2 separate regions of the Homo sapiens genome follow, and region 2 is linked to region 1. Evidence: fine-mapped expression QTL. Tissue or cell type: whole blood. Region 1 holds a variant in brackets; the other region holds the start of a gene. All regions are shown on one strand. Distances are from middle to middle.

Region 1 (8,411 bases):
GTCATAAGGACCTTATAATTTTATAGGAGAGGTAAGATGCAGTCACATATATACTTATTGAAATATGTATTTAAAAGCAAAATATACATTTTATGAGTTCTAAAAATATTTCGTATTCATGTTGACATATTTCTTCTTTTGCAGGCTTTATTGCATTTTCCACCATGCCAGAGCTGGCTCAGAAAATCAAAATGTATTTTGCTTTAGCACCCATAGCCACTGTTAAGCATGCAAAAAGCCCCGGGACCAAATTTTTGTTGCTGCCAGATATGATGATCAAGGTATGAGACTCCTCAGAAAACTTCCTGTGTACGTAGAAAAATCTTCCAGCCCAATTTCCTAAAACATAAACTTTTAAATTACAGTCACATCTTTTCTGTCTGTCATGTCTATGTCACTTCATATTTTCACAGGGATTGTTTGGCAAAAAAGAATTTCTGTATCAGACCAGATTTCTCAGACAACTTGTTATTTACCTTTGTGGCCAGGTGATTCTTGATCAGATTTGTAGTAATATCATGTTACTTCTGGGTGGATTCAACACCAACAATATGAACATGGTAAGTGGGAGCCTAGTAAATTCCCAGCATCCCAGCATAAAGCTGGGAGTCATATGGCTCACCCCTGGAGGGAGAGCTAATGCCAGTGAAGACTCAGAGTAATGATATATTCTCAGTAACTCAGTTCTCTGCAAACTGTAAGGAAATAAGGGAAATGCTTCAGTATGGACTGAAACAAGGTTAACATAAGGGCATTGCTGATATTAAATCACAGATTATAGATGGAAGAGGTCTGAAAGCAGCTTTACTACAGTGAATTAAATTAAAAAGAGCAATTAGCACATGTTAGACAACAGAGACAACTGTCATGCATCATCCACCTCTACCCTGCACTGGGGTCCTGTAGGTTTGTAGTTTAAGTTCTTTGATGGAACATCAGGGACCTTCATTTTGGCTTAGGCTACCAGTTGGTATCACTGGGTGGGTTCCCTAGGAAGCATACTCTGAGATGGAGGTTAATGTGAACAATGATTTGGGTCCTGCTCTAGGGATAATACCTAGAGAAGGAAAAGAAACAGGACTAGGTAGGTGAAAAAGTCAAGTAGTGATGCAGTCTCAATAGGAGACTTAGTTGATCCTGCAGGGATTTTTGAAGATAGGATGACCCTTCAGAACCGTCTCAAGTTAGGAAGAGAGGGTTGGGTCTTTATACACCATATCAGTCAGTCATTTAATGTAGCCATACCAGTAACAGGGTAGCACTGGGCAATGTATCTGCCTACAATTGGTGCAATCCTCAAAGCAGACTGAGAGTGGAGGGCTGTTTGCCAGCAGCACTCCCAGCAGCTGGGGCAACATTTCCTTAATTCTGAATATTTTTTCTTCTTCTTTAAGATTAATAATTTGATTTATAGTAAGGATATGAAAAGTATATATTATGTATCAGGCTAATTTATTACCTATACCAAGCCTATGAGTGTTATTAATATCCCCACTTTGCAGATTAGTATACTAAGATTTAGTAGATTAAGTGACTCACTCAAATTCACCTAAAAATTAAACTGCAGAACTAGGATTTGAATACAGGCCCAATGCTAGAGCCCTCATCCTAAATATCACTAGTAAAATTTTTTTTAATTAGGGGCCAGATCTCTGATGAGAACCTATTCTCAGATGAAAAATACCGGTGTCTGGCAATACATTTAATGACATTTTATTTACGTGCATGTACATATTTTTGTTTCATAGATAATTGCTGATAACTTAATAATGTTACCATTTCTTAGTCTGACACCCTGGAGATTTGGTCTTGACAGGGTATACATCTTGTGAGTTTTTCTATGTCCCCCAGAATACTCATGGTTTGTTACAGAGCCGAGCAAGTGTATATGCTGCCCACACTCTTGCTGGAACATCTGTGCAAAATATTCTACACTGGAGCCAGGTAAGAATGTTGAATTTGCAGTCTTTGCTAAATGTCCTGTTATATTTTGTGTAGAATAGTCAAAGGACACCATTTAGATAAGCCAGGGATTATTTCACACTTATTCTAAGATGAAATGCAGTATCGTCGATGCTATTTTGATGGAGAATTTGATCTAGATCACTGAAACTTTTCAAGAAATGGGAAGAAAGGACAGAAGTAGCCTAAGAACTTCTTTAGATCTTAAAAGTATGAATTTAGATGATCCAAGTGAGACTTCTCTCTGTCTCTAGACACCTCAAAGATGTGGCTGGAGATAATTATGTTTCTACATCTTCTCTTCAGCTCCTCCAACAATACAGTCAAGTAGAAACAAAAATGCTAATGTGGGGTCTGTCAAAAGAGATATTCACAGGAGTCCTTCACACTGCAAACTTTACCTGCAATTACAGGAAACACACACCTCTGTGTGTCTATGTGGTGTGTGTGAAAGAGAGGGATGGGGGAAGGAGAGAGTTCTCTCTGTTGACAGGTAGGGAGAGACAGAGAGAGAGAGAGCAATTGTACCATCAAAACCAGAGAAGAATTATAAGTTCAATTAAATTTTGGTTGCTATCTTCCAGGATCACCACATTGCACAATTCCAGGGCACGATTCCCCATTGTAGCCCACACAGTTGTGGAGGATACCCACTCACATTAATTACAATGAAGATGCACTTCCTGGAGTTGCTAATGCAATGATCAAGAATTTATGTAGTCCCTCTTTCTTCTCAAAAGGCCTCATTCTTGTCTTACCATTTTCCTGAGACGCTTATCCCAACATTGAATGGAAGAGCAGCTCAACCATTGCTCTCTCCTTCCCTCATGAGTGCACACTGGGTAGCACATTTCCACCACCCCACCACGCTTATCCACTGAGACGTTGGAATTCCTTGTAAATTTTTGTCTCCTTTTAGGCAGTGAATTCTGGTGAACTCCGGGCATTTGACTGGGGGAGTGAGACCAAAAATCTGGAAAAATGCAATCAGGTAAGAAAATCAAATACCATCTGCTGAAAATATATACATTGGAAATGTATGACAGGGACGTTATAATGACAGTTTATTCTAGATATGGGAATAAAATATGAAAATTTAAGCAGAAAATAATGGTTCATGTTTGACTCCATTTGAAAATGGTTAAGTTCACAGCTGATCCAAGAAACCTCTCTGCTTTTACAATGGAGTAGGAGGCCTTTTTAGCTGAGGCTGTCTCCCTAAACAAGGTACTGGGCTTCTCAGGAGCAAGATGAAGTAGATTTAGTCAAGAGAAGAGTGTAGTCTATGGTGGATACTAGAAGGATTATTTTAGAATTAAAAAAAATGGGATGGTGGCAGTAAGTTTGTTTCATGGCACAGTAAAAGGAACATTAAATGGCAAGTGAGGATTGCTGTGTAAGTTTTGCCTCTGCACTATAAACTTCTGTAATAGGAGGGAGGCTGCTTTAATTTTTCAGGCTTCAATTTCTTTACCTTGAAAATAAAAATTTTGGGCTTAGAAAATCCATAGGCATTCTCCCTAGTTATACTTTAAATGAATCTGTAATTTGCAAGTTACATTTTTTAAAAATGTTATTACATTACCCAAGAAAATATGTAGCTAATGCTATGAACTAAAATTAGATATCAAAGTGTGGAGATTCAGAATTGCACAGGTATGCCCTTTAGAACATAAAATCTTCTGAAGATTTTTGGTAATCATGTGTATGAATGTAAATAAATATTTACCATAGAAACAATACTGGAAGGGGCAGATTAGACACAGCTTAGTCTTTCTTTGAGACCCTCACATCATAAATTAACATCCGCTGCCATATGTCTATCTAGATGTAAAATGCTAGGAAACTGGACAAACTGTGCAGTGCCCCTGGATAGTGAACTCTCAATCTCTGGTATCAGCTGCTTCTCTTGAAGTCTTTCTTCACTGTTTCCCAAAATATGTCTTTAGAGAAAGTATTTCTGTTCAAAGATGTTTTTTTAATTATATTTATTTACTTTTGAGACAGAATCTTGCTCTGTCACCCAGGCTGGAGTGCAGTGGCGCAGTCTCGGCTCACTGAAAACTCTGCCTCCTAGCTTTGAGCCATTCTCTTGCCTCAGCCTCCCGAGTAGCTGGGACTACAGGTGCACGCCACCATGCTCAGCTAATTTTTTTTTTGTACTTTTAGGGATGGGGTTTCACCATGTTGGTCAGGCTGGTCTCAAACTCCTGACCTCAAGTGATCCACCTACCTCAGCCTCCCAAAGTGCTGGGATTACAGGCGTGAGCCACTGTGCCCGGCCCTAAGATGGCTTTAATTTATCAACATTTAATGGACTGAGTTCTAGAGAAATTGATTCATGCAGAATAGGCACCAGAAAATGGGAGTGGAAGGGAAGAGTAAACAAACACACAAAAAAAATCATAGAATCACAGAAACTCAGAGCGAGATATGACATTCAGTTCAATCTTTTCACCTGTAAGATGACAAAAAAAATTACTAGCCCCATAGAATTTTTCAACCTTCCTTATCCAAATTAGGCCATAACTGAGCCACAAAGAGAAACCAGAGCATCTAGGATTGGAGCCAAGACTCCATGGTGGATTTCCTGAGTAAGAAATGGGCCTTACCACTTCTGAGGAAAGTTCTGGATGCTGATTAATCTCAAGGGCTCAGCCGGCTAGGCTAATTCTACTAACACTGCATAAATACGGAAAGTTCCCAGGTATTAGGAATACTAATTGGTATATTTGGTGGGGAAGGGTGAGGAATAAGGATTGGAGCAGGTATTTAACTTTTACTTCCCTTTAGCTCAAATTACCTGAGTGCCATAGGCCATGGTTCTGGCAAATGCAGTCAAGCCGGGTCTGCCTCAAAGGCTGCCTGGGATCACATAAAGACTGTGAAGATGCAGAGCCCTTCCCAGCAGATTCCTTGCTTTTCTCTGTGGAATATAATTCTTCTTTCATGAAATGTTTGTGAAATTATCTTTTAAAAGAACAGGGGCATTATTTTTAAAAACAATTT[A/G]TTTACAAAATATTTAATAGGAAGAAAAAAGAAATACAAGGCATTACATGTTTTTATGTGTTTTGTCATTTGATCTAGCAAGTTATTACAGATATTATCCCCAGTCACAGAAGAAGAAACTGAGGTTCAATAATGTTAAGTAATTTTACCTTAAAGTAAGGGCGGGAACAGAAATTCTTAACAGAGTTGTGTGGCTCTAACACCCATGTACCCTTCACCACAACAGATGGCATGTTTATTATGTCTATTTGAAACATAAATTATGAGCCTGAAAGTCCAAATGTTACCTAGAGTTAAGAACTATTCCTTTTCTCTAGCCAACTCCTGTAAGGTACAGAGTCAGAGATATGACGGTCCCTACAGCAATGTGGACAGGAGGTCAGGACTGGCTTTCAAATCCAGAAGACGTGAAAATGCTGCTCTCTGAGGTGACCAACCTCATCTACCATAAGAATATTCCTGAATGGGCTCACGTGGATTTCATCTGGGGTTTGGATGCTCCTCACCGTATGTACAATGAAATCATCCATCTGATGCAGCAGGAGGAGACCAACCTTTCCCAGGGACGGTGTGAGGCCGTATTGTGAAGCATCTGACACTGACGATCTTAGGACAACCTCCTGAGGGATGGGGCTAGGACCCATGAAGGCAGAATTACGGAGAGCAGAGACCTAGTATACATTTTTCAGATTCCCTGCACTTGGCACTAAATCCGACACTTACATTTACATTTTTTTTCTGTAAATTAAAGTACTTATTAGGTAAATAGAGGTTTTGTATGCTATTATATATTCTACCATCTTGAAGGGTAGGTTTTACCTGATAGCCAGAAAATATCTAGACATTCTCTATATCATTCAGGTAAATCTCTTTAAAACACCTATTGTTTTTTCTATAAGCCATATTTTTGGAGCACTAAAGTAAAATGGCAAATTGGGACAGATATTGAGGTCTGGAGTCTGTGGATTATTGTTGACTTTGACAAAATAAGCTAGACATTTTCACCTTGTTGCCACAGAGACATAACACTACCTCAGGAAGCTGAGCTGCTTTAAGGACAACAACAACAAAATCAGTGTTACAGTATGGATGAAATCTATGTTAAGCATTCTCAGAATAAGGCCAAGTTTTATAGTTGCATCTCAGGGAAGAAAATTTTATAGGATGTTTATGAGTTCTCCAATAAATGCATTCTGCATTACATAAAGCATGTATGTGCATTTCAGTGTCTAGATTCTAGTCCAAGCTTGTTGGAAGGTTTACAGCTTGTTGCTAGGAGACCTAATGACTAAAAATTTCTGGCTCAATTTTCTGCCTCCAAAAATTAAAAGCTAGGGAGAAAATTGCATAATGTCATGAGCATGATGAAACAAATTGTCATATACTTTATCCTTTAATCTTGACAAAGTTAATGTCAGACAGTCTCTGCAACTCATTGACAAACCATGATTTATTTCTTCAGAAAATTATTCCACTTTTACACAATTTCAAAGATGACAGTTGTAAATTACATTGGTACTATTTTGCAAAATCTCTGAAACCAAATCAAAGGTTTGTGTGTGTCAAAAGTATATTGTTGAAGGTATACTGGTGTGTGAAATTCACTTGTGTGGGTTTTTTGTCCCCAAGGGTCACCTGGTAGCTCAGCTCAATGCCAGTGAATCTTAATTTATTAAGACACGTTTAAAGACTTCAGAATCTATATCTACACACTATTACTTCCTTCATAAAATAAGTTTCTTAAATCCTGTACACAGTTGAATATATATTGCTGGATTTGATTTTCATTAGAGCTTTCAAGGATGGTAAATCTTTCATTCTTATACTGTACTTGTTACCACATACAAAGAGGCTGGCTTAGTTCCTGTCTGCAGCTATGTGAGATTCAGTCTTGATTTTCAAAATTCAGTCATATTTTTAAAGTGAATTTATTTCTACTCTGTGTCATTCACAGAAGAAGTGAGACAGATATTTTGATATTCGCAATCTCTCACTTAGACAAATAATCCAGATCCTACCTCATTGTATAGCTCTGTTTCTTTTGAAGAACTTTATCCAAATAAGTTACAATAATATTTTACATCTATCAATAAAATAAACAAAACTAACAAGCTTGGCAACCACCTTGTATTTACAAAAGGATCATGAAGATTTTTTTAAACGAACATTTTCATAGTTGCATAGTCTTGCTCAAACCAAGATGGCTTTTATTTGTAAACCGAAATCTCTAGTGGTATGCTGGTAAACGAACTTTATGGAAAGTAAAAAACAAAAAAACAAAAACAAACTCTGATTTGTCAATTTGCCAATTTCTGTGGTGTAAACACACTCACCGCTGACACTTGATAGATGTTTTTATTGAAATTCCTTCACCAAAGGAATATTTACTTGTGAATCTCTAAGCCCACACACATACACAAATACCATTCTGTACAAACATACGTATTTAATAATTTGATTCTTCTGCTCAATACTCAAAGGGGGCTGGGAGGAACAGTTTGTCTCCTAGGGCATGACATAGACTGGACAGTCTTTTTATAAGAGTGATACAACTGGGAAGGGAGAACGCTGTTTCAGAAGATAACTCAGATCCTCTTCTTCAGGAAAGACTGAGTTTGGAACACCAGGGCTTTTTTTTTTTTTTTTTTTTTTGAGACAGGGTCTCGCTGTGTTGCCCTGGCTGCTCTCAAACTCCTGAGTTCAAGTGATCCTCCCACCTCAGCCTCCCAAGTAGCTGGGATTACAGGCATGTACCACTGTGCCTAGCTGAAACATCAGTTTCTGACTGAAGTGGAGACTACAACAACTTTAGTGTTTCCCTTAGAAGGATTACGGCCATGGTGAACTTGACTGAGTAAACAATGCTATAAATAAAAAGCTCTTCCAAAACATTAACCATGGTAAGCATCATTATCCCCATAAAATGGTGGCATCCAGGTTAAATGGCCCACAGACCAAAAGTCTAAAATGAAGATAGAATCCAGTCGTTAACTTTTTCTGTATCTCCATCGGTGTGGTCACAAGGATTACAATGCTTTCCTTAGCATTAATTCAATCTGGGAAAATTTTAATCTCCGTGCAATATCCAGTGAGCTCTCACCATGCTGAGGGGGGAAAAATATACAGTTATTTCCAATAGAGTGCCCAAGATCTCGTACGTAGCTTAGACCAATTGACTCTCTGTGTTGGCAAGGGCTTTAAAAGGCAATCAGTCCTAATAGTAATAGGATAACTTCATTCCTTAATGAGGATGATTAATTTTACTGTTGTTTACGTCAGAGGCAAATAATTTACTTCAACATAAGGCCTAGATTAGAAGATGCTGCTGCTAGAGGAACCTCAGACCACGGTCCACCCTCCCTTACCTTATTCTTTATTGTGGGGTCTGCACGGGCTTCCAAGAGCAGAGGGATAAGAGACTGGTTTTTCATTTCACAGGC
Region 2 (7,137 bases), 34 kb after region 1:
TTCATTTGTAAAATAAGGATACTAAAAGTGACTCTTACAAGATTGCTGTATTAAATGAGTTAATACATATATAAAGTGCTTAAAATAGGGCCTAATCTATAAGAAGCCCTAAATACATGTTTGTTGCTATTGTAAATATTATGAACAAATACCTTTGATAAGGGTTTAAATGAATCAGCCTTGTTTAAAAGTCCATCTTACGCAGTTGGAGTTACTTATTCAAAATTAGGGCCTCTCACTGAGCTCTAAGCTTATCCTCTAGTGCAGATTTCAGGACCAGCTCTCTGGGATCCTCCCTCATTCTCTCCTTCTTTCTTAAAAATATATATTGCATAACTATTAGCACTGCAAAGCTCTAAGGAAAAATGATAACCCTATGTCCCCAATCTAGAGGAGCTTCCCGCACTCAAATTGGGGGAAGTTTTTTTTTTTTTTTTGAATAGATTCTTCCAGGCAACATAGGACCAGGGATCCAGCAGGCTTTTTTCTTGTCCTTAATGAGTAGCTCACAATCTTTATCCTTAGGAAACACAGAGCAAATGATATATTACAAATGAGTAGGCTATGTTTAAATATTTAAGAGATTACTATTTAATTTTAAAGAGTCTCAAACTCTTTAAAACTATAGATGAAAGGTCCTACTTCCAACTTTCTACATCAGAATACCTGAGGATGAGACTAGGCTTTTTTTTTTCCTTTTTCCAAATCACATATAATTCCCACATGCAATCTGAAAAAGCAACCAAAATGCAGAATCTTAGGTCCCACCCAGGTCTACAAACTAAGAATCTGCATTTAAACAAGACCTTCAGAAGATCTGTATAGACATTAAAAACGGGAAAGCACTGGCCTGTGGCAGTCTTTCTTTCTCAGGATGGTGGTAAACAGATCACCCCTATGTCAGAACCACCTGGGATGCTCCTTTTAAAAAGTATACTTTTGTATCCTACCATAGACTGAGTGAAACAGACTCTCTGGGTTGGAGTCCCTTGAAACTGCATTTCAAACAAACTTCTCTCCCTGACACTTGGGCAGTCTAAAGTTTGAGAGTTACCAGAGTAGCATTTAAAAGCACTATATGTTTTGTCATTTTCATGTATATGATCCCTTCATGAGGCTAAAATCACTGAGCAAGACATACCTAGAGTTATAAACCAATCAAACACTGCATTTGCACACACGGAGAGATATATACACACATGGCATTAGAAATAACTGCAAATAAACTGTCTTTAATACTAGATCAAAACTATCCAAGAAGGTTCCCCTGAGCATCTGCAATGAAATGCAGATTAACCAGTTAATTGTGTCAGAGGAGAGAGAGAGTAAATTATGTATAATGACATCATTACACCTCTTGTACTCTTGTCTAAACATTCCTTGCTTGTACTTTCTTGAAACATCATTAAAAATCCATTTGATTCTAATAAGTTACTTCCAATACAAGTAAAAGTACCTCAGTATTTATCAGATGTGAAAAGAAAATAATCAAATCATCAAAATATGTTATTATTCCTCTTCTTCATAGTGATAGTCTTTACTAATATTTACTAAAGGTGAATCTCCCTTCAAATACCAAGCTGAAAGGCATTACTCTGGTCATGTGGTTCCATAAAAGAGGCAGTCAATCTTTTGGATATTTAGAAAATCCAATTGAGTACAATTTTCTCTTTTTCTCTGAGTGTTTGTCATGAGAAAAGCACAACTCAAACTCGATTTTGTCCAAATTATCCTTGCAAACATCCAGATACTATGAAATGTGTATTATATTCATCTCAACTTAGATCTAGCTAATATTTTAGAATTACAAAATACTTTGTCTTAAACTATTAAGAATATCAACAAGAATAACACATAGGACTTTATTTTTTCTGACTTAATGCTCCCCCAGGGAGTTGAACAGACAAAACAGAAATATATTAACAGGGATAGAAAATTGCATCTGAAAAGCATGAGTAACTTTTAACATCTTTGGAACTCTGCTTTCAGAAAGGTGATGTACCTCAGAGTATAGGATTCCCATGCTGGTCCTTCACAGGCTTACTTCACCTCTACAGCTCCTTGAATCTTCTGGAGGTATTTCTGATGAATATCAAAATCCTTCCTGGCTGAGAGGAAAGTCCCTAGAAGTCCAAGCTGGTGGCAAGCTCCAGGAGTGCTTTTCTAGCAAACACCTGTCAGTGCTTTTCCAGCAGCTCAGGCAGCAGCACACCTTCCAGAGAGCCCAGCCCAATGAAACAAAGGCACTGGTGTCATGTGTAACGACCCAAGCCTGTATCATCTAATGTTACAACCCTGAGGAGCCGGTTTCTGAGTCATATTTGCTCTGCCAGTGGTAACATGCAGGAAAGAAGGAAGCAAAGTTAAGGGAGGAAGAAAAGTTCTTACATTGGCAGGAAGGACTCACGGTTCAAACCAAGATACTGTATTTCAGACATTTCGTAATCAAAATCTGGTTTTCAGTGGCCATTGAGAAAGGCTAGAGACCAACAAACTTACTTGTGAGAGCCACACGTGTCTGGCAAAGAACTTGAAAAATAATCTTCAAAATTCTCAGCCTAACAAGTAACGCTTTTCCAGCTATTTATGCAGTTTTGTAAACTAATAAATTTACTAACATAATAAATCTTAAGTTGTTTTAAATATTCCAATACTATTCACACATTTAGCCAAATTACTTTATAATATTCAATTTAAAAATCATAAGTCTAAAATCAAATACTCTGTTATGCATTTTAAATTGCATCATCAATTTATTTATCAAACATGCTAGTATGCCCAATCTCTTAAATATTGTAAACATTTTATATGCTATATATGATATCATTCACACATTTTCCTTGAACTGAATACAATCACATCAAACTTTCCCAGAATTGAAACACTCGACCGTCCACACACCCATTATAACCATGGGACCAGCCCAAATGGGCCGTACTTTGTTGATAACAAATGTCAATTTACTCTGTAGATATAACAGAGCCAAAAACTGTAAGTCATTTAGCCCAGGCATGCACAATAAAAATGTTTTTGCCTCTAACAGAACCTAGAACAAATGATCCCTCCCCTGGGAACCAAGAAGACAAGGACATGACGGGAACCTAAATGCAGGACCTCTTTCAGAAGCTAGGGGCTCATTGGCCCAAAAGATCCAGGGCTGAAATCTGCCTCAACATACCTTACCTTTAGTGGTCAAATTTGAAGCCCTTCAATCAGTCCCTGCCAAACCAACATTCCTAAATCCTTTCCCTCACCCTCTAAGCCATACATTTTCTCAGATTCCAAACTGGGGAGGCAGATTTGAGCCCACCTCCTGTCTCCTTGCTGACCTGTCTTGCAATAAAGTTTTTCTTTCCTCAAAACCCAGTGTCCAGATATTGGCTTCTGTGAGCAGGGGGCAGCAAGCCTATTTGCTCAATAATATCATGGAAGAAATAGTTCAACCATCTCAAACCAATTGATGTGATTTTCCCAATCAGTTGAGGCTCCTTAGTGGCCAGAAACTAGTGACCAGGATACTAGGCCTGTGCTTATAAATATTCAGGGAAATTCTTCTTACTCCACTGGTGGATATACTGAGCTATTTTTATAATTATTTCAAAGATTTTATGTTTCACTATGCAGTTGACATCGAGGCCAGCCTCTCTGGAGTTTAAGAATTAGCTAATTCTTCCGTTGGAGGAGAGGGAAGTCTGCAATACCCACTAAAATTGCAGCTGACTTCCTCTTTGGCTTGGTTTGATTTTGTATTTCTGTAGACTCTTAAGACATTTAAGTGTCTTCCCATTGACTTAGAAAAACATTAATGGTATATCCATTGGGTACTTCACTCTGTTATGCAATATTTTGTAACCTCTGGTAGCCTCTTTTGTAACCTCTTTCAACTAATTTGTGTGGACAGAACTCTTCACTGTCATTGCTTCTCTCCTAAGGTTGCTGCTAGCTTTCTTCTTCAAGCTCTTTCCTCCCTGACTGAGCTCTAAATGTTTCTTTAACTTTCAATCAGGATCAAAACTCATTTTATTAGATTCTGCATCTCTTGACAACATCTGGTTCTAAAGGAACAGTACTCATTATAATTGCAAATGATGTAGGGTTAGCTCAAAAAACAAACCAATGAAAAAAGCAGTTGACTCATTGTTATTTGTAAAACACTTGGATTTAACTCTAGGCCATTGGGTCTCAACCAGGGGTTATCTCGCCCCCAGATAGACTGCAGATTTAGCAACGAAAAAGATAAGATGTTCAGTTAAATTTGAATTTCAGATAAATTTCTGAAATGTCATATGGGACATACATACACTAAAAAATTATGTTGCTTAATGGAGAACGTCGTTTTATTGGAAACTAAAGACATTTGGCAATGTCTGGAGACATTTTTGGTGGTCACAACTAGGAGTGGGAGCATGGTACTCTAATGTGGGGAGCAGAGGCCAGGGAAGCTGCTAATCATCCTACAGTGCACAGGACAGCCTCTCAGAGCAAAGAATTACCCAGCTCAGAAGAGTGCTAATGTAGAGAAACTCTAGTCTAAGCCAAAAGGAGAATTAAAGGTGAAGGAAGAGGACTTCGTAAACTATAGTGTCAAATTGGAATACGGAGGCATATTGTCAGAATGAAGTTGGATAAACAGATATATTTTTAAGTGTTTAGGGTTCTTCCTCTGGCAATTTTGAGCCTATAATTACAAAGACAGGTAAAGAAAAGAAGTTCCAGAAAACAGCTTTCACAGGTAAATGTCTTCTGTCAAGAAATAACACTGTCAAGAAGACAAATGTCTTCTGTCAAGAAATAAACCTAGTGTTTAATCTGAATTAAACACTAGGGACTTAAAATTAGTGGCATCCTTTGATCCTGGCTGTAAATGCAGCCAACCTCCACTGACCAGCAGCCAACTGTCTGTGAGAGATGAGTCTCTTGTAAGGTGTATCCCAAAGACTTCCCCCCAAGAGGGGTTCAGTAGAGCATAACAAAGAAGTATAGTCCACAGAAACTCAGTTTTACGCTGATATCTTAATCCTTCAACATTATCTAACATTGTCCAACATTGACATTAGCAGTGGAAGTTATCTGAGTCACACGGCACCAAAATATGTCACCAGCCAGCAGTGAATCTGTGTGGGTTTGCAGCAAACTCAATTCTTGCCTTCTCAGAAGAAAGAATTCAACTGGGGGCCATAGGATGGAAGAAGAGACCAAGGCAAGTTTTAGAGCAGGAGCGACAGTTTATTAAAAAGCTTTAGAGCAGGAATAAACAAAGTAAAGTACATTTGGAAGAGGACCAAGTGGGCAACTTGAAAGACAAGTGTGCAGTTTGACTTTTGACTCGGGGTTTTTATACGTTGGCATACTTCCAGGGTCCTGCATTCCTTCTCCCCTGATTCTGCCCTTTGGTGGGCTGTCCACATGTGCAGTGGCCCACCAGGATTTGGGAGGGGAGCATGCACAGTGTGTTTACTGGAGTTGTATGCATGCTTACTTGAAGCACTCTTCTCTTACCAGCTGAATGTCCCTAGAAGGTAATATACCAGTTAAACTCTGCCATTCTGCCTCTTAATGTGCATGCTTGAACCCACTCGCCCAACTCCTGAGATCTTATCAGGAAGCTGCTGATCACCAGTTTCAAGTTTTTTCTGTCTATTGGGAGACTGCCTTTCCCTGGCACTGGCTGTGACCAATTGTTATTTTATATATATATATATATATATATATATATATATAATTTTTTTTTTTTTGAGATGGAGTCTTGCTCTGTTGCCCAGGCTGGAGTGCAGTGGTACAATCACAGCTCATTACAACCTCCACCTCCCAGGTTCAAGCGATTCTCCTGCCTCAGCTTCCAGAGTCGCTGGGATTACAGACACCTGCCACCTGTATTTTTGTATTTTTAGTAGAGACGGGGTTTCACCATGTTGGCCAGGCTGGTCTCAAACTCCTGACCTGAGGTGATCTGCCCACCTCGACCTCCTAAAGTGCTGGAATTGCAAGCATGAGCCACCACGCCTGGCCCTCAACTATTATTTTAGAGAGACGGTTAACAACCTCCTTACTATCACCTGATGTTCACCTGACATTCCTGGTGGGTGGGGGGAGCCCTCTCCTACTCTGCTCATGTCTGACTAGCTACTTACTGTAAAATTGGCTCCCATTGGAGAGATTTGAGTAGAGGAGTGTTGTAATCAGAATTTTATTTATATAATAAAGCTCACTCTGGCTGTTGTACAGAGAGTGGATCTGAGGCAGGAAAAAAGAAACAGCAACTAGTTAGGAGGTTATTGCATTAGGTCAGCTGCATGATAATAGTTACCTGGGGCAGAAGAGCAGCAGTGTGGATAGAGAGAATAGGATAAACTCTAGAGTTTAGGAGGTAGAAATAACAGACTTTGCCAACTATGAGTTATTAAGCTATCTCCTAGCATTGAACACACTTTTCTATGTTTGGTTCTTCAATGCCTACCCTGGCATTCTGCAAGCTAGCTTTTTTTTTTTCCTACTGGTATGTGGAGACAAAATTAACTTCATCTTGGATGCTAATCCACCATGTTGACTTCTCATTAACCCCAGTCCCATAAATGCCTTCGGATTCCTACTTTATTTACTGTCCTTAGTGTAAGAACACATACTTACTGTAAATCCTGCCTTTAGACCAAAGCAAACTTGATGTTATCACACAAATATAGGTTATGATGCACACAGCACTCTTGCCTGTTCTGGGGGGTTGTCTTTAATTGTCTCTATAGAGCATGTATCCCCTTTCCTTATGATATATAAGCCCGGGGTCTGGGGTGTATTGGTGTGGAGATCTATTTGTCTTGCTACTGCAGGCCACACTTCTGTCTGTAAGTTCCCCCAATAAATTACCCTTTATCAAAAAACTGATTTTGTCTGCCTTATTATTTGGTTTCTTGGCTCCTTCCTTGTTTGGAGATTGCTTTGCATATATGACCCTTTCTTGAAACCTGGTCTATTTTCTAAGGAGCACTCCATGTGAGATTACAACGCTAAAGAGGGAGAAAGAGATCTACTCATTTCTATATGCTTGCAATCCTATCGGCCTCATCCCACCAATAGCTCTTCATCCAAGAAAAAGCAATTGATCGAGCTTATTTTCCACATTCCCAGAACCAGCCTATTTAT

What was found. PIP is the estimated chance that this variant, and not a neighbour inherited with it, causes the effect.
Region 2: ANKRD22 starts here. The variant in region 1 is fine-mapped to the expression of ANKRD22 in whole blood (TOPMed, PIP above 0.99).

What each region holds. Positions count from the first base shown.
Region 1 is chr10:88,814,944-88,823,354 of GRCh38, forward strand. LIPM (lipase family member M) reads left to right here. Exons shown (of 9, transcript NM_001128215.1): 5 at 145-281; 6 at 414-560; 7 at 1,873-1,944; 8 at 2,882-2,953; 9 at 5,289-5,603. The coding sequence ends at 5,558. It overlaps ANKRD22 (ankyrin repeat domain 22), which reads right to left. Exons shown (of 6, transcript NM_144590.3): 5 at 8,337-8,411; 6 at 4,953-8,075. The coding sequence ends at 7,998. Among named protein-coding and RNA genes, the nearest start is that of LIPM, 16 kb to the left of the region's middle. The variant A/G (reference allele first, on the strand shown) is at 4,972.
Region 2 is chr10:88,849,585-88,856,721 of GRCh38, forward strand. ANKRD22 (ankyrin repeat domain 22) reads right to left here and starts at 2,260. Exons shown (of 6, transcript NM_144590.3): 1 at 2,003-2,260. The coding sequence starts at 2,023.